Linked DNA regions of Homo sapiens. The protein of the gene in region 1 purifies or fractionates together with the protein of each later gene. This does not show direct contact. Each region holds a gene or a part of one and is shown in the gene's direction. Other genes may lie near its edges. The genes, in order: ST8SIA3, MANEAL, GLB1L2, SLC30A6, HFE, SUSD2 and DNAJC16.

Region 1 (3,438 bases):
ACCTACCAATTTCTATGGTGTAAATACTCTCATCTCAGCCAATTTCAGGCTACTAACTTAATGTCAACCAGCTGAAAACACAACAATATGTTTTCAAGAGCCAGTATAAGTTGGCTCCAATACAGCATGAGCCAGCTCCAGCATAGCACTGCCTGAACAATTTTTAAGTCAGTGAGTACCAAATAGGAGAGGCTAGCAGAGGCTTTGGAGGGACTTTTAAATGTCCCCTCCACCAAGGGAAGCATTTCCATGTTGGTTAGTTTTACTGATTTTTAGTAAAAGAGCATATTATTGGATCCCAAGGTGTTCAAATATTCCACGTGACTCTTAGGAACCTCTCAACAGACTCCCCAGTATCTTGGGAGATTACCAACTGTGGCTTTTCTAATTTCTAAGGGTGACCCTCCAGGAAAACATTCTTTAATTTAACTACCAGTTAAAACCATGTTTGGCTGATCTTTTTTAAAAAATCTATACCTATAGTTCATCACTTGTTTCCCCAACTTTGTCATTTTCCCTATCCACTTGCCCCTCATCCTTCTGACACAATAAAAAAAATACAGGTACCCACAAAACAGTGCCTGCAAAGGAGCAGGGGAAGAACAAGGCACCCAGTAAGCTCACTTGGCTCTACATATCTGGAAAGGCACTGAGGTTCCAAGGTCTCTACCCCACCAGGGGACACCCAGTAAACATCACGCTGAGAGTTTAAGTTGCACTCAACTGGAGTTGATTTGCCCTTAGAAAAGTTTCCAACGGTGAAGAAATACCACTTGGTAGGAATATCTCTGGGCAACTTCATTGCTGACTGGGCAAACTTTGTAGGATAAGGTGTCATGTGATGTAAGGCTGGACCATGAAAAACAAAAATCTACTAATACACATTTGGCCCCTGCAGTCCCCTGGCATTGAGCAATAGAGCAACTGTCCTTTCTCACCACTAGTTGTGAGTGTACTTCCAACTGAGTGTTTAGAAATCAGGTAATCTGGTAATCCACAGAACAAGCTTTGTTTGCAAATTGCAAATTTTTCTGGTAGAAGTCATTCTTAGGTGGGCTTCATTAAATCTTTGGAGAGGCAATGCTGGGAAAAAATATGCCTAATTCCTAGGACACAGTGAGTGGCCGTAAGTTGTTATCTGCATGTACTAAATCAAAATTAGATCATGAAGGACCAAATCTACTTCCGTTGCTATAATAAAATACCCTACAGGTTCTGTAAGGCATTTCTAAACTGTAAATGCTTGAAACGCAAGTTGGACATTTTCTATACTATGTGTAAAATGCCAGGTTATACCTCTATTTTCTTTCTTCCTAATGGTCATTGAAATGAGCTTGTTTCTCTACATTGAGCAAGCTACATTTTATTTTAAATGAGTCAGGTGCATGTTCAGATGTCTGTATTCCCAATACATTGCATGCAGCCTGAGCACAAGTATGCCTTCACCCTCTGGCTCTTTTCCTGACACCAAACAGAGAAGTCCACAGCTACAAGCACAAGGGGCTTGACAGGTAGGCCTTGTTTTATTATGAACAAATTCACCAGAAAACCATTCTTGAGGAACCAGCCACTCCCATAGCATTTTTAGTCTTAGGGAAGAAAATTGGCAGGGAAGAAAAATTGGCAGACAATGGGAAAGAGGTTTGGTCAACCTGCATAAGTGGAATAAAGTCATTGAAGTACTTGCAAAAAGAAGAGGGAGGTTTCCCTCTGAAGGAATCTAGACCATTTTTTAATATGGAGAATAACTGTACCCCATGTTAGAAGTGCTCTTTAGCCATATTTCAAGATCCAGATCTGAACCCATACTGTGCAGAAAAGCACAAGAGCGCTTACAGCCAAGAGCCCTGGGAGGAGTTGAGTAACAGGCTGAGATCCGGTCACCAAGCATCATTAGTTAGCACTGAAATTCTCCCAGGACACAAAACAAATGTATGGAAACATCGCAATACACTATCATTTACTCACATGGGACAACCACCTAAGTCCATAGCAAAACTTTACAGATCTAGATGTTATCTCAAGTCAGGATTCCAGATCAACATCCTCCATGTGGAGATGAGACAACTGAGGTTCAGAAAGTTGGAGTGACTTATTTGCCCAGCTAGCTAACTGGAATTAGAGTCTGGGTCTCCCAACCACTGATTCTGCTACACCACACTGTGCTGCTTCCATTAGTTAGATGGACATTGACAATTAATTGTGAAAGCATTAATTAGAAGTCAAGACAAAAGAATGTTTGTGATATCTTCTCTCGCTTAACATACTTTGATTTCACCATTGCATTTCAGCATTTTAAAGAATAGTGTATCAGTATAGAAGGAGGAGCAAAGCTCTTTAAGAGTAATGATGAAACCAAAAGGTCAAAAAGTAGAAGAATAGCGAATGTAAGTTATTAAATAAATGAGCAAGAAGTATGTGTCAGGGAAAATAAATGCTTCTTATATTGTTAATACCGTGATTCCCTGCCCGCTCACCCCGTCACTCAACACTTGATGCATTTGTTTTGGAAAGTGCCATTTTATGCTGAGATACTGGTATTGAAAACTTCCCTCTTTCCCAACTCTGTCAGAAGTTCTCTTGCTCTTTGGAAGAAGCCGAGGGCCTTAACAAATCAGACTGACCTCCCTTGTGACAGGCAGCCTCGCCTGCCCTTGGAAACAAGCTGCCAGAATGTGAGGGCCACAGAGACCCAAGAGAAGCCAGCACTGCTAGACTGAGGAACTTGTAAATATCTTCTGCTTTCTTGGTGAACAAGGACAGAGGCAATTGCGTGTATATTGTGACTGTAGTTTGTGAAGAAAATGCAACCATTTGCTTCGACAGCTCCTCAAATGTACTTGTTAAGTGTGAATGTGCCTGCCTCATTGCCTTGTGTTCCAAACACAGTACTGAATGCGTTGTTTTTAAATAAACCATTTCGTTTTGCTTTGGGAAACACTGCTGGTTGTCTGTCACATTCGGGAGAGCCCCCACACACACATACACACACATACATGTGCTAACACATACTCACATTTCATCCAGTGAAGAGATTGAATGCTTCCTCCTGTTTTATATTCTCAGTGTTTTGAGGTCGTTGGAAATTTGTAGGACCCCAGAAAGGGTGAGCTTGGCTGTCTACAGCCATGAACAAGCAGGAAATACTCAAAGTCCCTACACATAACTTTTCCATTGGTCCTTTAAATGCTAATCATGTGACAGGCCTTAACATTATTAATAATAATACATTACTCTTGAAAGTTACTATTACATACATCATTTTATTTAATGAATAATCAGGTGAGGGAGAGATGCTGAGGGAGTTGTCCCTGCTGTGCAGTTAAGTGACAAGTCAAAATGAGAACTCAGCCTGACTCCCTGTCCAGTTCTCCTTCCTCTGTACCTTTCACCCCATCCCAGGCTCTCTCTAGATCACCTCCTCATAGAACCTTCCCC
Region 2 (2,393 bases), on another chromosome or scaffold:
TTGGTGGGGATCAAAATGGAGGTAGGGATAGAAGGTTTGGAGGGGCAGGTCAAGAGACACAGGGCATAATGCCTGTGTTTCCCAGCAGCTGTTTTATAGTAAGAGAGTACTGGGCCTAAAGTCAGGCAGCCTGGGTTTCAATTCCTGTCCTGTGGCTTCTAATCTGTGATGAGGCAAGCCTCTTAACCTTTGAGTCTTGTGAGAATCACACGAATTAATATATGTGAAAGTAGCTTCTACAATGTAGGCACCTCATTTATTCATTCAGAAAGTATTGAATGAAGGCCAGGCATGGTGTAATCCCAGCACTTTGGGAGGTCGAGGCAGGCGGATCACTTGAGGTCAGGAGTTCGAGACCAGCCTGACTAACGTGGTGAAACCCCGTCTCTACTAAAAATAAAAAAATTAGCCAGGCGTGGTGGCGCACACCTGTAATCCCAGCTATTCAGGAGGCTGAGGCAGGAAAATCGCTTGAATCTGGGAGGCGGAGGTTGCAGTGAGCCGAGATTGCACCGCTGCACTCCAGCCTGGGTGACAGAGCGAGATTCCATCTCAAAAATAAATAAATAAATATTGAATGAGGCTGCGTGCAATGGCTCATGCCTGTAATGCCAGTGCTTTTTTTTTTTTTTTTCTTTTTTTGAGACAGAGTCTCACTCTGTTGCCCAGGCTGGTGTGCAGTGGCACAATCTTGGCTCACTGCAACCTCTGCCTCCTGGGTTCAAGCGATTCTCCTGCCTCAGCCTCCTGAGTAGCTGGGATTACAGGTGCCCACCACCACACCCAGCTAACTTTTGTATTTTTGTATCTTTAGCTGGGCGTGGTGATGCACAGCTATGGTCCCAGCTACTTGGGGGGCTAAGGTGAGTGGATCACTTGAGCTCAGAAGTTTGAGGTTACAGTGAACTATGATGGCACCACTGTACTCCAGCCTGGGATTTCACCATGTTGGCCAGGCTGGTCTTGAACTCCTGACTTCAGATGCTCTGCCCACTTCGACCTCCCAAAGTGTTGGGATTACAGGTGTGAACCACTGCACCCGGCCTCCCAGGGCTTTGGGAGGCAGAGGTGGGAGGATTGATTGCTTGAGGCCAGGAGTTTGAGATCAGCCTGGGCAACATAGCAAGACCCCATCTCTACTGAAAAAAAAAATTAGCTGGGCATAGCAGTGCATGCCTGTAGTAGTCCTAGCTACTTGGAAGGCAGAGGTGGGAGGATCACTTGAGCCCAGGAGTTTGAGGTTACAGTTAGCCACAATTACACCACTGCATTCCAGCTGAGAACAGAGCAAGATTCTGTCTCTTAAAAAAACAAACAAAAAAAAAGAGAGTATTGAGTGCCTACATGTGTCCAGGCACTGACTTAAGCCCAGTTGTACAGTAATGGGTAGGACTAGCGAAATTTCTGATTTCATAATGTTTACTTTCTAGTGTATGTTGCAGGTACTGTGGAGCAGACAGTAATTAAATGGGAAAAATCAAACAGTGATCTGTACAGGATTTTGTGCTAGAGTGTGCCCACGATGCTACTTAAGAATGGATAGTCAGGTCAGGTGAGTCTGAGGAGACAACAGGTGAGCTAACACCTGAATGAGCAGTCAGGGCTGGGTGTGGTGGCTCACACCTGTAATCCCAGCACTTTGGGAGGCTGAGGTGGGAGGATCACTTGAGGCCAGGAGTTTGAGACCAGCTTGGGCAACATGGGGAGACTCTATCTCTACAAATTTTTTTTTAAACATTAGCTGGGCATGGTGATGCATGCCTATTGTCCCAGCTATTTGGGGGGCTGAGGTGAGTGGATCACTTGAGCCCAGGAGTTTGAGGTTGCAGTGAGTTACGATGGCACCACTGTACTCCAGCCTGGGCGATACAGTGAGACTTAAGAATAAAAAAAAGAAAAAAGAAAAAAAAGCCCAGGCCCAGTGGCTCACACCTGTAATCCCAGCACTTTGAGAGGCTGAGGTGGGTGGATTGACTGAGGTCAGGAGTTCAAGACCAGCCTGGCCAACATGGTGAAACCCCATCTCTACTAAAAATACAAAAATTAGGCAGGTATGGTAGCGGGTGCCTGTAATTCCAGCTACTTGAGAGGCTGAGGCAGGTGAATCACTTGAACCCCAGGAGGTAGAGGTTGCAGTGAGCTGAGATCGCCCACCGCACTCCAGCTCTGAGCAACAGAGCAAGACCCTATCTCAGAAAAAAGTAGTAATAATAAGAAGAAAAAAGAAAAGAAAAAGGGTCAGCTCTGCAAAGATCCGGAGGCAGGGAGAAAATTCCAAGCAGAGGGCTGGCAGATGCAAGTCCCATAAGATGGAACAAGCTTGCATGACACATGAGAGCCGGATAGAAAGGCCAGATGGGGAGTAATAGCTGGGAAAAGAGCAGGAATGGAGT
Region 3 (3,500 bases), on another chromosome or scaffold:
TGAGACAGAGTCTTGCTCTGGCACTCAGGCTGGAGTGCAGTGGTGTGATCTTGGCTTACTGCAACCTCCGCCTCCCGGGTTCAAGCGATTCTCCTGCCTCAGCCTCCCGAGTAGCTAGGGTTACAGGTGTGTGCCACCACGCGCAGCTAATTTTTGTATTTTTAGTAAAGACAGGGTTTCACCATGTTGGCTAGGCTGGTCTGGAACTCCTGACCTTGTGATCTGCCCACCTCGGCCTCCCAAAGTGCTGGGATTACAGGCATGAGCCACCGCGCCCGGCCTTCCCTATCTCTTTCTTAGGAATGTTACCAAGCATATTTTGAAAAGTCCAAGTATTTTGATAAAGTATAAGAGAAACAAATTCTTGTTATGGTTTTGTCTTCCTATCTCGGCCCACGTGTGTCATCTTCCCAGTGCTAGTCTTGGCTGAGTTTGGTGTTCTGTGGTTGGAGTGGAAATCTGGACAGGAATCAGCTGGGACTTCATTCATTCCTCATCCTCAACATTGTGGCCTTTAAGATTTTCTTGTTAACTGGTGTAACCTTTCTCAGCCTCCCAGTGTACCAGGTGGTTAGACCCAGACTGCCTCAGGGAAGAGGCTGATCCTTGTCCCCAAGCCGTCTCCCCTCCCCTGGTCCCTGGGGAGCCCTGGGCTTCTTTTCCTCCTGGTTTCCAGCATGACCCGCCCTTCCCTCGGGGGCATAGCTTCTGTCTCCACTACCCAGGGCCACTTCTCAGGCACTGATCCATCCAGCCTGGTAGGCTCACCCTAGTCACGAACACAGCCAGGGCAGCCTCTCCCATCCCTGTGGATTAGAAAGCTGTGTGCCACCGTCAGCGATTTCCTCGGCTCAGCCGGGGCCGGGCACAGGAGGACGAAGGGTTTAACAGTCTTAACTTAGAAGCAGTGGGGAGCTGTGGCACTCAGACTCCCCCTTCTCACCCCGCCCATGTGGCACCTGGCCATGCATGAGAGGGGCATGTGGGCACACCTGCGGAGGGGGCGTCCGGGCGTGAGTGAGAAGGCTAACCTGTCAGGTGGGGTTAGAATGTGGGGGTGTCGGTCTGGAGGAAACTGCTCTCTCCTCACCCCTTGTTTGACCCACAGAAATGGGATAATTTCCTGACCCTGTTTAGGACTTCCAGACCAGGGCAAGAGGAGCCTCAGAGCCTTTTGTTAGAAAATATGTGTCTTCTCAGAACCTGAAGTGAGAAGGAAGAGCCCTGACTCCAGCTTTGGAACCAATCCACGCTGCTGTGTTCCTCTGGGGAGTTTGGGATCATAGCAACAGGGTGGAGGGAGAATTCAACTCTTGCTCACCTGCTGCTCTGGGCTGTGCGCCACTGATGCCAAGGCGTTAGCCACGTTGGCAAGGATGGGGACTGCCTCCTGCTCAGCCCCTCGCAGTCTCTGTCAGGCTTGTTTTTTGGGGTGACGCTAGAAGGTTGTGTCTCCTCCTTCCACAGCCTCAGTGATTCCTAACCCTTTTGACTTCACTTTTTGAAATGGGATCACAGAGCAAGTTGTTGAAAACTAGGCCTGGAGTCCTGTGAAAAGCTTTTCTCACTGCTGGCAGCCAGGCCCTGTAGCTGTGGAGCTGGAAATGAACTTCCACCAGGCTGTGTCCTTGGGGAGGGAAGCTGCAGGAGTGCGGGTGGGTGCTCGCCCCAGAATCGGTTTGCATTGTCTCCCCACTTCTGGGCTCAGTGGGGTGGAGGAGGGCACAGGTCATTCTGGAGCACTGGGGGGCCTCTCCCTTCTCACGCATCAACAGCCTGCTCACAGCAAACCCACTGTGACACTAACATCCTTCCTTTCCCCCGTTTACACTTCAAGCTGGCTACTCCAAGACCCTGGCATGAGGCTGAGGACAACTTACAAGGGCTTCACCGAAGCAGTGGACCTTTATTTTGACCACCTGATGTCCAGGGTGGTGCCACTCCAGGTACAAGCAAATGGGGTCTTCTTTGATCTTGGTCTGTCTTCCTCTAGGTCGTGGATCATCCTTGGTTAGTTCTCAGACCAAGGGTCCTCCAGTGTTTTGAACACACGAGCAGGCTCTTCCTCACCGTCCGAGACTCGTAACTGAGGGGCTTGCAAGAGTTGTCTTTGGAAAGATCTGTGCATTTCAGTGTTGTCTCACTTGGGTGCGTTACTGAAAGGACAGACAGATGTAAGGGCTCACATTGCCACATACAGCACTGGAGAGACAGGGATGCTGTGATAGCCGGGAACACGCATCCACTGGCATCTCCATGGTTCCACAGAGACAGGGATGAGGTGATAGCCGGGAACACCCATCTATCTACCAGTGTCCCAGTAGCACTGCGGCTCAGTTTTGCACAGGGTGGAGCACATGTGGATTAACCTTTGCCTATAAGACTGCAGGACTTTTTATAAATTATAAAATTCCTTTCGCTGACTTTACGAGATACTTCCCTCTGCTACCAAAAAGGTGCTGCATGGTACACACTTACTATTCAAAACATGCGTTAAAGTACGTTTTGGGGGAGGAAGTACCTTAATATTTTATATAATAATTGGAAGCTTTGGAAAGCAGGAATGGGAAAAATCAACCCAGTTGCTGTGTAAAACCAGAAAGAACGGCATTGAGAAATTAGTACATCAATAAAAAATTAGTTCAAGTCAGTGGTATGGAATACTCACCACACACATAAATCAAAGGGAACTGCCAGATGAAACACAGGATGCTCAGTTATATTTGAGTTTCAGATAAGCAAGGAATAATTTTTTAGTGTAAATATATTCCAAATATTGCATGGGTCATACTTACACTAAAAAATTATTTGTTGTGAATTCAAATTTAACTTTATGTCTGGTATTTTTGTTTACTAAATCCGGCAGCCTTAACCATGACAGAAGCAAGGAACTAGGAAGTCATTAGCCTAGATCTTGCTGGGAAGCTGGGGATCAGCAGGTTGTAGGAGTCGGGTGGGCAGCAGGATGGCCGTCCTGGGAGCAGGCTCAGAGGCACTTGCAGACGTGCAGCGGGTCACCAATGCATCTTTTTGAAATAAACGATAACATAATTATTATTATTTAACATATTTAAATAATCACATAGTTATTTAATTTTTGTGACTATGGGATAGTATACATAACATAAACTTTGCCATTTTAACCATTTTGAAATGTACAGCTCAGCGGCATTGAGTCCACCCACACTGTTGTGTGCTCATCTCCACAGCCTTAGTTCAGGCTGCCACAACCAAACACCTAGACTGAGTGGCTTACAGACAAAGAAATTCATTTCTCCCAGTTTTGGAGAGTGGGAAGTCCAAGAACAAAGCACTGGCAGATTCGGTGTCTGGAAGGGCCCCCTTCCAGGGCATATACGGCCATCTTCTTGATGCAACCTTACATGGCAGAGAGCGTCAGAGAGCTCCCTGAGGTCCCTCTTATAAGAGCACTAGCCCTGTTGGCAAGGACTCTATGCTCATAACTAATCACCACCCAAAAGTCCCACCTCTGAATACCG
Region 4 (3,500 bases), on another chromosome or scaffold:
TTATCATTTCCCTCCTTTTTGTTCTTTTTTTTTTGAGATGGAATCTTGCTAAATTATCCAGGCTGGTCTTGAACTCCTGGGCTCAAGGGATCCTCCTTCCTCAGCCTCTTGAGTAGCTGGGATTACAGGGGTACACCACCACTCCCAGCTAGTATCATTTTCTTTTATATGTTCTCAACTCTTTTGTGCTCCCCTTCCCTCTGTCTTAATTCCTGGAAAATCCCTAACCTTCATTAAGTTCACTTTCTTTCTACTCTACTTGCATCTAAGCAACTGAATGTAACCTGAGAGAAACAAAACCATGCGACTGGTCTCACTTTGAATTCATGATCAGACAGACCATTAGTGCTGCCTATTAAGTGCTGCCTATTAGTGCTCTTTCATTTTATATTTCCTTTGTTCATTCAATTTTCCAATTTCCTAGATGGCTGTTTCATACGATGTTCTTTCGTTTCTATCCTCAAGCTTCTAATACCTTCTTCATCCTCACCCTAACCTGATGATCTTGCTTCCTGTTTCACCAAGGGAAAAGAAGTAATCAGAAGAAAACTTCTACATCCTATCATTAGCACATCAGCCATCACTCCGCCTTCCCTCCTATTTCTCTGGACAAGCTTTCAGTTCTTCTCTATAAAGGCAATCCTTTCACTTGTTGCCTACTGAAAGATGATGTCCCTATAATTGTTCTGTTTCTTACATCATTGTTTTTCTTGCATCATGCATCATTCTCCTCTTTCTTGCATCGTAATTACATGTTATAAGTTCCACTCTCAGGGCTGCTTCATTTCTCAGCTTCCTTTTGTAGCAAACCTACTTGAAAGAATTATCAGTACATTGTGTTCACCTTCTCTTCTCCTCATCTTTATTAAACACATACCAGTTAGGTACTTGTGCCCACTAATTCACATAAACAGCTTTTACAAGGTAACCAAAAATCTCTGTGTTGCCAAAATGAAGATTTTTCCTTATTTCTCACCTTACTTGGTTGATGTTGAACAGCCAAAGTCAGTACTTTTTTTTTTTTTTTTGAGACAGAGTCTCGCTCTGTCGCCCAGGCTGGAGTGCAGTGGCACAATCTCATCTTACTGCAACCTCTGCTTCCCTGGTTCAAGCGATTCTCCTGCCTCAGCCTCCCAAGTAGCTGGAAATAGAGGTGCCTGCCACCACACCTGGTTGATTTTTTGTTTTAGTAGAGACGGGGTTTCACCATGTTGGCTAGGCTGATCTTGAACTCCTGACCTCCACCCACCTTGGCCTCCCAAAGTGCTGGGATTGCAGGAGTGAGCCATTGCACCTGGACAAGATTACTAACTTTTAGGAACATCATCATGCCCTTTATTCAGATTCACCAGTTGCTTACATTTGGCCCCATTTGCTTCATCGTTGTCTCTATAATATGTACTTATAGAGACAAAACGATATGCATATGTATGTGTATTTTTCTCAACTATTTGAGAATTTCTATGTCAGAATTTATTTTCTCTTGAACAACTCTCCTTCTGGAACTATTCTTTTAAACTTGTATACTGTAATAACTTAGCCGATGACAATTTTGGTAGATGTAGAAAGTGTGACACAGACTTTTTGAAGGAAGTTATGTTTATTCCTTTGAATATCAGAGTATAAATTGTAGCAACTTGAACAGACCCCGTGAAATTTATCACTTCTGTACACATAAGAGTGATTTTTATTTTCACAGTCCTGGAAGATACTGCTCTTTGGTGTAATAAACTTGATATGTACTGGCTTCCTGCTTATGTGGTGCAGTTCTACTAATAGTATAGGTATGTCACCTTTGTATTTTTATGGAGTTGTTATTTTTACTTTTATTTTTCTCATTGGAAATAAAGGTATATCTTACATAGAATATATTATTCTGAAATGTATATAACTCAAATGATTTAAATAAGGGACTATATTTAAAACTTCCCTGTAAACTGTAAACTTTTGTTCATTTGTTAGGATTGTAATTTTTTTTTAAGTTTTTTTCCTTTTAAAATATATTTTAAAACAGAAATGGGGTTTCGCCATGTTGCCCAGGCTGGTCTCAAAATCCTGAGCTCAAACGATCTACCCACCTTGGCCTCCCAGAGTGCTGGGATTACAGGCGTAAGCCACAATGCCTGGCCATTTTCATTTTAAATAAGCTGTTATTTTTTGAAAAATCATTAAATCTATCTGGAGATTTTTTTTTTTTTTTTTTTTTTTTGAGACGGAGTCTCACTCTGTTGCCAGGCTGTAGTGCAGTGGTGTGATCTTGGCCCACTGCATCCTCCACCTCCCTGGTTCAAGCGATTCTCCTGCCTCAGCCTCCCAAGTAGCTGGGATTACAGGCACGTACCACCACGCCTGGCTAATTTGTGTAGTTTTGGTAGAGATGGGGTTTCACCATGTTGGCCAGGATGGTCTCGATCTCCTGACCTTATGATCCACCCGCCTCAGCCTCCCAAAGTGCTGGGATTACAGGCGTGAGCCACCGTGCCTGGCTGGAGATTTGTTTTTAATATAATAGATTAAAACTTTAATTTATGCAGTTTGTAAGTTAGATTTTGAGGTTTGTTGGCTTTTCCTTAAAAAGGGAATTCTGTAATTTTTTTCTTATATCTTTTTATGTTTTTTATTGCATTGTTCTTTTGTTCAGTTATTCAAACAATACATTTGAAATAGCGCTGAGATTACAGAAGCAGGCAGAAAAATGGTAACAGGGCTTTTGAACATTCATTGCTTCATTTTTCCTAATGGAGAAATCAGGTTGGGAAGTAAGCTTTTCTACCAACGAACTTTGGCTACATATATTTATCAGATTTACTAGATAACTGCCAATATATGAGGTTGGCCCGTGACTCAAAAGTTTTTTTGATAATGGATACCCCTGGTAGAAATAATTTTGGTAACTTGCTGTATTTTTTTAGAGGGGTCAGTAATACTTTTAATCATTTTTTTGTTGTTTTGCAGCTTTAACTGCCTATACTTACCTGACCATTTTTGATCTTTTTAGGTAAGTTTTTAGGAAATCTTAATGTTTTGGAGCTAATAAGGAACTTGGTAGAAATGTGGTATAGCCATACAATTCAGCAATAAAAACAGCAACTACTGATATCTTACAAGAAAACAATAAAAACATTATGCTTTGAAGACAGTCATAAAGGACCACATATTTTATGATTTCATTTATATGAAATGTCCAAAACAGGCAAATCTATGGAGAGAAAAAGTAGATTATGAAGAAGTTTTCTTTGCTTAAAGGAAAGTAATCTACTAAATAAGTAAAATTATCAACATAGAACAAACACACAAACAACAATAATTAGAGACATAACAGTAATTAGAGAGCAGGTGGGGCGGCTCATGCCTGCAATTCCAGCACTTTGGGAGGCCGAGGCGGGTGGATCACTTGAGGTCAGGAGTTTACGACCAGCCTGGCCAACATGGTGAAACCCCGTCTCTACTAAAAATACAAATAGCCAGGCATGGTGGTGTATGCCTGTAGTCCCAGCTAC
Region 5 (3,500 bases), on another chromosome or scaffold:
TGTCATTGAAGGATCCTAAGAAAGGAGGACCACGATCTCCCTTATATGGTGAATGTGTTGTTAAGAAGTTAGATGAGAGGTGAGGAGACCAGTTAGAAAGCCAATAAGCATTTCCAGATGAGAGATAATGGTTCTTGAAATCCAATAGTGCCCAGGTCTAAATTGAGATGGGTGAATGAGGAAAATAAGGAAGAGAGAAGAGGCAAGATGGTGCCTAGGTTTGTGATGCCTCTTTCCTGGGTCTCTTGTCTCCACAGGAGGAGCCATGGGGCACTACGTCTTAGCTGAACGTGAGTGACACGCAGCCTGCAGACTCACTGTGGGAAGGAGACAAAACTAGAGACTCAAAGAGGGAGTGCATTTATGAGCTCTTCATGTTTCAGGAGAGAGTTGAACCTAAACATAGAAATTGCCTGACGAACTCCTTGATTTTAGCCTTCTCTGTTCATTTCCTCAAAAAGATTTCCCCATTTAGGTTTCTGAGTTCCTGCATGCCGGTGATCCCTAGCTGTGACCTCTCCCCTGGAACTGTCTCTCATGAACCTCAAGCTGCATCTAGAGGCTTCCTTCATTTCCTCCGTCACCTCAGAGACATACACCTATGTCATTTCATTTCCTATTTTTGGAAGAGGACTCCTTAAATTTGGGGGACTTACATGATTCATTTTAACATCTGAGAAAAGCTTTGAACCCTGGGACGTGGCTAGTCATAACCTTACCAGATTTTTACACATGTATCTATGCATTTTCTGGACCCGTTCAACTTTTCCTTTGAATCCTCTCTCTGTGTTACCCAGTAACTCATCTGTCACCAAGCCTTGGGGATTCTTCCATCTGATTGTGATGTGAGTTGCACAGCTATGAAGGCTGTACACTGCACGAATGGAAGAGGCACCTGTCCCAGAAAAAGCATCATGGCTATCTGTGGGTAGTATGATGGGTGTTTTTAGCAGGTAGGAGGCAAATATCTTGAAAGGGGTTGTGAAGAGGTGTTTTTTCTAATTGGCATGAAGGTGTCATACAGATTTGCAAAGTTTAATGGTGCCTTCATTTGGGATGCTACTCTAGTATTCCAGACCTGAAGAATCACAATAATTTTCTACCTGGTCTCTCCTTGTTCTGATAATGAAAATTATGATAAGGATGATAAAAGCACTTACTTCGTGTCCGACTCTTCTGAGCACCTACTTACATGCATTACTGCATGCACTTCTTACAATAATTCTATGAGATAGGTACTATTATCCCCATTTCTTTTTTAAATGAAGAAAGTGAAGTAGGCCGGGCACGGTGGCTCACGCCTGTAATCCCAGCACTTTGGGAGGCCAAAGCGGGTGGATCACGAGGTCAGGAGATCGAGACCATCCTGGCTAACATGGTGAAACCCCATCTCTAATAAAAATACAAAAAATTAGCTGGGCGTGGTGGCAGACGCCTGTAGTCCCAGCTACTCGGAAGGCTGAGGCAGGAGAATGGCATGAACCCAGGAGGCAGAGCTTGCAGTGAGCCGAGTTTGCGCCACTGCACTCCAGCCTAGGTGACAGAGTGAGACTCCATCTCAAAAAAATAAAAATAAAAATAAAAAAATGAAAAAAAAAAGAAAGTGAAGTATAGAGTATCTCATAGTTTGTCAGTGATAGAAACAGGTTTCAAACTCAGTCAATCTGACCGTTTGATACATCTCAGACACCACTACATTCAGTAGTTTAGATGCCTAGAATAAATAGAGAAGGAAGGAGATGGCTCTTCTCTTGTCTCATTGTGTTTCTTCTGAGTGAGCTTGAATCACATGAAGGGGAACAGCAGAAAACAACCAACTGATCCTCAGCTGTCATGTTTCCTTTAAAAGTCCCTGAAGGAAGGTCCTGGAATGTGACTCCCTTGCTCCTCTGTTGCTCTCTTTGGCATTCATTTCTTTGGACCCTACGCAAGGACTGTAATTGGTGGGGACAGCTAGTGGCCCTGCTGGGCTTCACACACGGTGTCCTCCCTAGGCCAGTGCCTCTGGAGTCAGAACTCTGGTGGTATTTCCCTCAATGAAGTGGAGTAAGCTCTCTCATTTTGAGATGGTATAATGGAAGCCACCAAGTGGCTTAGAGGATGCCCAGGTCCTTCCATGGAGCCACTGGGGTTCCGGTGCACATTAAAAAAAAAATCTAACCAGGACATTCAGGAATTGCTAGATTCTGGGAAATCAGTTCACCATGTTCAAAAGAGTCTTTTTTTTTTTTTTGAGACTCTATTGCCCAGGCTGGAGTGCAATGGCATGATCTCGGCTCACTGTAACCTCTGCCTCCCAGGTTCAAGCGATTCTCCTGTCTCAGCCTCCCAAGTAGCTGGGATTACAGGCGTGCACCACCATGCCCGGCTAATTTTTGTATTTTTAGTAGAGACAGGGTTTCACCATGTTGGCCAGGCTGGTCTCGAACTCTCCTGACCTCGTGATCCGCCTGCCTCGGCCTCCCAAAGTGCTGAGATTACAGGTGTGAGCCACCCTGCCCAGCCGTCAAAAGAGTCTTAATATATATATCCAGATGGCATGTGTTTACTTTATGTTACTACATGCACTTGGCTGCATAAATGTGGTACAAGCATTCTGTCTTGAAGGGCAGGTGCTTCAGGATACCATATACAGCTCAGAAGTTTCTTCTTTAGGCATTAAATTTTAGCAAAGATATCTCATCTCTTCTTTTAAACCATTTTCTTTTTTTGTGGTTAGAAAAGTTATGTAGAAAAAAGTAAATGTGATTTACGCTCATTGTAGAAAAGCTATAAAATGAATACAATTAAAGCTGTTATTTAATTAGCCAGTGAAAAACTATTAACAACTTGTCTATTACCTGTTAGTATTATTGTTGCATTAAAAATGCATATACTTTAATAAATGTATATTGTATTGTATACTGCATGATTTTATTGAAGTTCTTGTTCATCTTGTGTATATACTTAATCGCTTTGTCATTTTGGAGACATTTATTTTGCTTCTAATTTCTTTACATTTTGTCTTACGGAATATTTTCATTCAACTGTGGTAGCCGAATTAATCGTGTTTCTTCACTCTAGGGACATTGTCGTCTAAGTTGTAAGACATTGGTTATTTTACCAGCAAACCATTCTGAAAGCATATGACAAATTATTTCTCTCTTAATATCTTACTATACTGAAAGCAGACTGCTATAAGGCTTCACTTACTCTTCTACCTCATAAGGAATATGTTACAATTAATTTATTAGGTAAGCATTTGTTTTATATTGGTTTTATTTCACCTGGGCTGAGATTTCAAGAAACACCCCAGTCTTCACAGTAACACATTTCACTAACACATTTACTAAACATCAGCAACTGTGGCCTGTTAATTTTTTTAATAGAAATTTTAAGTCCTCATTTTCTTTCGGTGTTTTTTAAGCTTAATTTTTCTGGCTTTATTCATAAATTCTTAAGGTCAACTACATTTGAAAAATCAAAGACCTGCATTTTAAATTCTTATTCACCTCTGGCAA
Region 6 (2,560 bases), on another chromosome or scaffold:
GGGAGGGGGCAGCTCATGGGGCCTGGCTCCAGGGGAGGAGGCTCATGAGGAACCCCTGCACGGCTGGCATGGCCCTGGGCCCAGCTTCCAGCAGGGACAGGGATCCTGGAGTGTGGCAGGAGGTGATGGTCACCCAAGCCGGGGTCCCTGCTAGAACAGCCCCTCCTAAGGGGACCGCCTGGCGGTCCATCCACCCATCTGTCAGGCTGCTGTAGGTGGCAAGGCCTGGGGCCAGGCCTCGAAGGAACCCCAGGGCTAACCAGGCATCCTCTCCCTCAGGAATGCCCTACTCACAGGAGTGGACTGCAAAGTGGTCGTACCTGTACCCCCTGGCCACACACATCCCCAACTCCGGCTCTTTCACTTTCACCCCAAAACCTGCTCCTCCCAGCTACCAGAGATGGCGAGTGGGTGCACTTCGGATCATCGACAGCAAAAATTACGCAGGGCAGAAGTAAGAAGGCATGGATGTGCAGGTGATGGCTGGAGGGCCTCGCCGCCCGAGGCCCATCATGCTTGCCTGGGCAGCCCAGGCTGGGGGTGGGGAGAGTGGGGCGACCATGGGGTGGTGTGGGCTGGCCCAGCTCCAGCATCATCACCTCCACAGGGACGTGCAGGCGCTCTGGACCAACGACCACGCACTGGCCTGGCACCTGAGCGATGACTTCCGAGAGGACCCTGTGGCCTGGGCACGAACTCAGTGCCAGGCCTGGGAGGAGCTGGAGGATCAGCTGCCCAACTTCCTGGAGGAGCTGCCGGACTGCCCCTGCACCCTGACCCAGGCCCGGGCTGACTCCGGCCGCTTCTTCGTGAGCCTCCCATCAGGGCCCAGGAGAGGGGATGAGGGGTTAGCCTCCCCACTGAGGACAGCACCAGGGGAGGCAGACAGAGGTGTCCTGGAGGGTGGGGCTGGGGTCTCAGGACCCCTGCAGGGTTGGCCTCAGGGAGGGGATGACAGAACCCGAGGCCACTGGGTGACAGCCACCTGCTGCTCTGCAGACGGACTACGGCTGTGACATGGAGCAGGGCAGCGTGTGCACCTACCACCCCGGGGCCGTGCACTGTGTGCGTTCTGTGCAGGCCAGGTGAGCCCCCAGGCTGGGGCCGGTATGGGGATTGGGGTCAGGGGTGGGCTCCCAACAGTGGCCTGGCCCTGACTCACTGGCTCCTGCAGCCTCCGGTACGGCTCAGGTCAGCAGTGCTGCTACACAGCGGACGGGACGCAGCTCCTGACAGCTGACTCCAGCGGCGGCAGCACTCCCGACCGCGGCCATGACTGGGGCGCACCCCCGTTCCGCACGCCACCCCGAGTGCCCAGCATGTCCCACTGGCTCTACGATGTCCTCAGCTTCTATTACTGCTGCCTCTGGGCACCCGACTGCCCCCGCTACATGCAACGGCGGCCCTCCAATGACTGCCGCAACTACCGGCCCCCAAGACTGGGTGGGTGCCATCCCGTGCCCCAGACCCTGGGAAAGATCGGGCTGGGCTGGGGTGCACCCCCACGTGACCCTCCACTCTCACCCTAGCCTCCGCCTTCGGAGACCCACACTTTGTGACCTTCGACGGCACCAACTTCACATTCAATGGGCGCGGAGAGTACGTGCTGCTGGAGGCAGCGCTGACCGACCTGAGGGTGCAGGCGCGGGCCCAGCCCGGGACGATGTCCAACGGTGAGGCCAGGGCTAGGGGCTGCTCTGGTTGGCATGGGGTAGAACCAAGGTGGGAGGCTGGAGCCAAGTGGCTCCCGTTCTGCTCCCACCACCGCAGGCACGGAGACCCGTGGCACTGGGCTGACCGCAGTGGCCGTCCAGGAGGGCAACTCAGATGTGGTGGAAGTCAGGCTGGCCAACAGGACCGGAGGTCTGGAGGTGCTGCTGAACCAGGAGGTGCTGAGCTTCACCGAGCAGAGCTGGATGGACCTGAAAGGTGAGCAGTCCAGCCACGCGAGGCTGCGGGCTGCCCTCACCTCCTCCCCATTCCTGCAGGGAGACTGAGGGGAAGCCCTGGGCCTTCATGCCTCTCCCAGTCCTGGCTAGAGGCCTGGGTGGTCCGACCTCAGGCCTTCACACCCACCGAGGTGCCCCCGTCGTACCCACCTGGTCAAAAGCCGAGAGGCCGTGACGGTGGGACATGTCCTCCCTACGGAGGATCCCGGGAGCCTTCTGGAGGGGAACTCACCCTGGTAACGTTCACCGCTGGCCTGCACAGAGCCACTCCTGTGCTCCTGTCACTCCCTCAGTCCTCAAAAGCCACTGCAAGGTCTCCAGCCCTGCACGGTTAAGGATGCCCCTGGCAAGTGGTAGCTCCACATCTGAACCCCTTGCCTCAGGGAACTGAGTCAATGAAAGGATTCCTGGTTGGGATGGGTGAGGACCTGGGAGGGGCCTGTCAGCACTGAGGGTTCAGGGACCCTCGGGACGTGCCCAGGCAGGTGTGGCTGCTGCAGCCAAGGCCAGAGGGACCCACACGTGCATCTCAACATGGGGGATTCACTGCAGGGGCTGCACCTCAGGTGCCGCTGGGAGTTCCACCGCAAGCATGGCAGGGGTGGCGGAGG
Region 7 (3,500 bases), on another chromosome or scaffold:
CCAGCCCTCCCTATACTGGAAGAACTAGGACAAATAGTTTCTAAAAGGCCCTGCCGGCCAGGAACAGTGGCTCACGCCTATAATCCCAGCACTTTGGGGGGCTGAGGCAGGCGGATCACTTGAGGTCAGGAGTTTGAGACCAGCCTGGCCAACATAGTGAAAACCCGTCTCTACTAAAAATACAAAAACTAGTTGGGTGAGGTGGTGCACGCCTATAATCCCAGCTACTTGGGAGGCTGAGGCAGGAGAATGGTTTGAACTCAGGAGGCGGAGTTACAGTGAGCCGAGATCACACCACTACACTCTCCAGCCTGGGCGACAGAGCAAGACTCCATCTCAAAAAATAAAATGAAAGGCCCTGCTGCATCAGAGATTCAGTGACCAACCCCTTAAATTCCTGGCAGGCACGATGGCTCATGCCAGTAATCCCAACACTTTGGGAGCCTGAGGTAGGAGGATTGTCTGAGGCCAGGAGTTCAAGACCAGCCTGGGCAATATAAACAAAACTATATATATATAGTTTTCATATATATAAAATTTCATATATATAAAATTTTAAAATTCGTAAATGTGGTAAAGAAGTTTGGTTTGGGAAAAACATCACAGATTGGGAAGAGAAACAGTTTGTTAATGACTTGGAAATCCTCCCTTAGTTGAAATGTCAGCTTTCACTGGGCACAGTGTATTCACTTCCATAAGATGAGCTCCTCGTCTTCTTCACCTTCACTTGCCATTATAGGTGCTGGCCCTGCCATCAGGGATTGGTTATAAAGTTTTGTCTTTTTGTTGTGCAGGTACTGTGTGGTTTTATTGACTGCTGAGACTACCAAGTTGAGCAAACCCTTTGAGGCTTTCCTGTCCTTTGCCCTGGCAAACACTCAAGACACAGTGAGATTTGTGCATGTCTACAGCAATCGGCAGCAGGAGTTTGCCGACACCTTACTACCAGACAGTGAGGCGTTTCAAGGGAAATCAGCGGTAAGCCACAGAGTCTCTCCTCATCCCAGGCTCTTCATAACCATGTGGCACTTGATTCTGTTTCCTTCTTCCTTGAGAGTGTTGAATACAGATTCTAGGAAATCTGAAACTCTGAAGCCTATTTTCAAAGTCTACTCTTTTGTTTTTCCTTTTTCTTGATTTTTTTTTTTTTCTTTTGAGACAGGGTCTCACTCTGTCTCCCAGGCTGGGAGTGCAGTGACATGATCTCAGCTCATTACAGCCTCGACCTCCCAGGCTCAAGTGATCCTCCCACCTCAGCCTCCCACATAGCTGGGACCACAGGCACACACAACCACGCCTGGCTAATTTTTTGTATTTTTTTGTAGAGATAGGGTTTCGACATGTTGCCCAGGTTGGTCTCAAACTCCCGAGCTCAGGCAATCCTCCCGCCTCCCAAAGTGCTGGGATTACAGGCATGAGCCACTGCTCCTGGCCTAAAGCCTACTCTTAAAACAGTTTTTGACCTGGTCTTTTTACATTCTGGATGTCAGCCTCAGGCCCCCACAGAAACCATGTTTTCTATCAGTGAACGGTAAAGGTCATCAGTGCTTTTCACCAGTTTTTTACTAAGGCAAGTCTGGTCTTGCAGCATCCTAGATCCTAGATTTTACAAATCCTTAGGCCACTGGTAATGTGCTCTGGAAATTTCTGCCCCCCTCTGCCTCTTTAACTTCATCCTGGTTGATCTCTCCTGCCTTTCTCCTGCATTGTCATCACTTCCTACAGAAACAAGAAATTCTCCTCTGACTTTTCATCATTTTCGCAATCATGGAAAATCTCTCTAAAAAACAAAGGTTTCCATTAATATTAAGTCAAGGTTATAGAGCAAAGTCTATTGAGAAAAAAGAGCTTTAACTTTTAACAAAAGCTTAGGAAAGTCACCATAAAAGTTATTTCTTAGGCCGAACGCGGTGGCTCACACCTATAATCCCAGCACTTTGGGAGGCCGAGGCGGGTGGATCACTTGAGGCTAGGAGTTTGAGACCAGCCTAATCAACATGGTGAAACCTCATCTCTACTAAAAATACAAAAATTAGCTGGTGTGGTGCACACCTGTCTGTAGTCCCAACTACTCAGCAGGCTGAGGCACGAGAATTGCTTGAACCTGGGAGGCAGAGGTTGCAGTGAGCCAAGATCGCACCATTGCACTCCAGCCTGGGAGACAAGGGCGAAACTCTGTCTCAAAAAACAAACAACTGGGCCAAGTGTGGTGGCTCACAGCTGTAATCCCAGCACTTTGGGAGGCCAAGGCAGGCAGATCACGAGGTCAGGAGATCGAGACCATCCTGGCTAGCATGGTGAAACCCCATCTCTACTAAAAAAAAAAAAAAAAAAAAAAAAAAATACCAAAAATTAGCCAGGCATGGTGGCAGGTGCCTCTAGTCCCAGCCACTTGGGAAGGCTGAGCCAGGAGAATGGCGTGAACCCGGGAGGCGGAGCTTGCAGTGAGCCAAGATCACGCCACTGCACTCCAGCCTGGGCGACAAAGCAAGACTCCGTCAAAAAAAAAAAAAAAAGCAAACAACTGTAACTTAACCATGCTTTTGAAACTTCTGATGTTTTTTCTCTACTTTTCTTCCAGGTGTCTATTTTAGAAAGGCGCAACACAGCAGGAAGGGTGGTGTATAAAACCCTGGAAGACCCTTGGATTGGGAGTGAGAGTGACAAATTTATCCTCTTGGGCTATCTCGACCAGCTGCGTAAAGATCCAGCTCTTCTGTCCTCTGAAGCAGTGCTTCCTGACCTGACCGATGAACTTGCCCCTGTGAGCATCGGGGCTGGGAAGGGTGGGACACCAGGAGGGCTTGTGAGTACACAGTGCTGGTGGCGGATTTCTGCTCAGAGCAGAGGTCCAGCAGCAGCACTGTGTTGCAGGGTAGAGGGACTCTCCCTTCCGGCTTTAGTCCTGACCATCATCCATTTTCTCTCTACATAGGTTTTTCTCCTTCGATGGTTCTACTCTGCTTCTGACTACATCTCAGACTGCTGGGATAGCATTTTTCACAACAACTGGTAGGGATATTGCCAGGCTGAATTTCTTTTTCTCTGTTAATACTGATATCACTGTTTTTCTTTTGAAAAGAGTTCATCATTATTAAATTTCAAGGTACACTTGATGGGGCAAGTGGAAGAACGTTTACACATTTTCTATTCCCCTTTTTCTTTCTTTCAGTAACTTCCCTTTTTTTTATTTTTTACTTTTTTTTTTTTTGAGACAAAGTCTTGCTCTTGTCCCCCAGGCTCAATCTGGGGATCACTGCAACCTCCGCCTCCCAGGTTCAAGCAATTCTCCTGCCTCAGCCTCCTGAGTAGCTGGGATTACAGGCACCTGTCACCATGCCTGGCTAATTTTTGTATTTTTAGTAGAGATAGGGTTTCACCATGTTGGTCAGGCTGGTCTCAAACTCCTGACCTCAGGTGATCCACCCGCCTCGGCCTCCCAAAGTGCTGGGCTTACAGGTGTGAACCACTGCTCCCGGACATTTTTTATTTTTTATTTT

The links.
Region 2: the proteins of ST8SIA3 (region 1) and MANEAL purify together in Homo sapiens (affinity purification with mass spectrometry; one large-scale study listed by BioGRID and IntAct). This does not show direct contact.
Region 3: the proteins of ST8SIA3 (region 1) and GLB1L2 purify together in Homo sapiens (affinity purification with mass spectrometry; one large-scale study listed by BioGRID and IntAct). This does not show direct contact.
Region 4: the proteins of ST8SIA3 (region 1) and SLC30A6 purify together in Homo sapiens (affinity purification with mass spectrometry; one large-scale study listed by BioGRID and IntAct). This does not show direct contact.
Region 5: the proteins of ST8SIA3 (region 1) and HFE purify together in Homo sapiens (affinity purification with mass spectrometry; one large-scale study listed by BioGRID and IntAct). This does not show direct contact.
Region 6: the proteins of ST8SIA3 (region 1) and SUSD2 purify together in Homo sapiens (affinity purification with mass spectrometry; one large-scale study listed by BioGRID and IntAct). This does not show direct contact.
Region 7: the proteins of ST8SIA3 (region 1) and DNAJC16 purify together in Homo sapiens (affinity purification with mass spectrometry; one large-scale study listed by BioGRID and IntAct). This does not show direct contact.

Annotation. Positions count from the first base shown.
Region 1 is NC_000018.10:57,365,994-57,369,431, forward strand, and holds the end of ST8SIA3 (alpha-N-acetylneuraminate alpha-2,8-sialyltransferase ST8SIA3), read left to right. Parts: 3' UTR 1-2,938; downstream 2,939-3,438. UniProt on the Homo sapiens protein: Catalyzes the transfer of sialic acid from a CMP-linked sialic acid donor onto a terminal alpha-2,3-, alpha-2,6-, or alpha-2,8-linked sialic acid of an acceptor, such as N-linked oligosaccharides of glycoproteins and glycolipids through alpha-2,8-linkages.
Region 2 is NC_000001.11:37,796,847-37,799,239, forward strand, and holds part of MANEAL (glycoprotein endo-alpha-1,2-mannosidase-like protein), read left to right. Parts: intron 1-2,393.
Region 3 is NC_000011.10:134,345,488-134,348,987, forward strand, and holds part of GLB1L2 (beta-galactosidase-1-like protein 2 isoform b precursor), read left to right. Parts: exon of another isoform or gene 1-361; intron 362-1,837; coding exon 1,838-1,946; intron 1,947-3,500.
Region 4 is NC_000002.12:32,172,364-32,175,863, forward strand, and holds part of SLC30A6 (zinc transporter 6), read left to right. Parts: intron 1-1,699; coding exon 1,700-1,784; intron 1,785-2,955; coding exon 2,956-2,998; intron 2,999-3,500. UniProt on the Homo sapiens protein: Has probably no intrinsic transporter activity but together with SLC30A5 forms a functional zinc ion:proton antiporter heterodimer, mediating zinc entry into the lumen of organelles along the secretory pathway.
Region 5 is NC_000006.12:26,093,929-26,097,428, forward strand, and holds part of HFE (hereditary hemochromatosis protein isoform 1 precursor), read left to right. Parts: intron 1-257; coding exon 258-298; 3' UTR 299-475; coding exon of another isoform or gene 476-483; 3' UTR 484-3,500. UniProt on the Homo sapiens protein: Binds to transferrin receptor (TFR) and reduces its affinity for iron-loaded transferrin.
Region 6 is NC_000022.11:24,184,487-24,187,046, forward strand, and holds part of SUSD2 (sushi domain-containing protein 2 precursor), read left to right. Parts: intron 1-279; coding exon 280-454; intron 455-607; coding exon 608-809; intron 810-999; coding exon 1,000-1,085; intron 1,086-1,174; coding exon 1,175-1,443; intron 1,444-1,529; coding exon 1,530-1,673; intron 1,674-1,770; coding exon 1,771-1,929; intron 1,930-2,560. UniProt on the Homo sapiens protein: May be a cytokine receptor for GPR15LG. May be a tumor suppressor; together with GPR15LG has a growth inhibitory effect on colon cancer cells which includes G1 cell cycle arrest. May play a role in breast tumorigenesis.
Region 7 is NC_000001.11:15,561,348-15,564,847, forward strand, and holds part of DNAJC16 (dnaJ homolog subfamily C member 16 isoform 1 precursor), read left to right. Parts: intron 1-794; coding exon 795-978; intron 979-2,581; coding exon 2,582-2,764; intron 2,765-2,935; coding exon 2,936-3,012; intron 3,013-3,500. UniProt on the Homo sapiens protein: Plays an important role in regulating the size of autophagosomes during the formation process.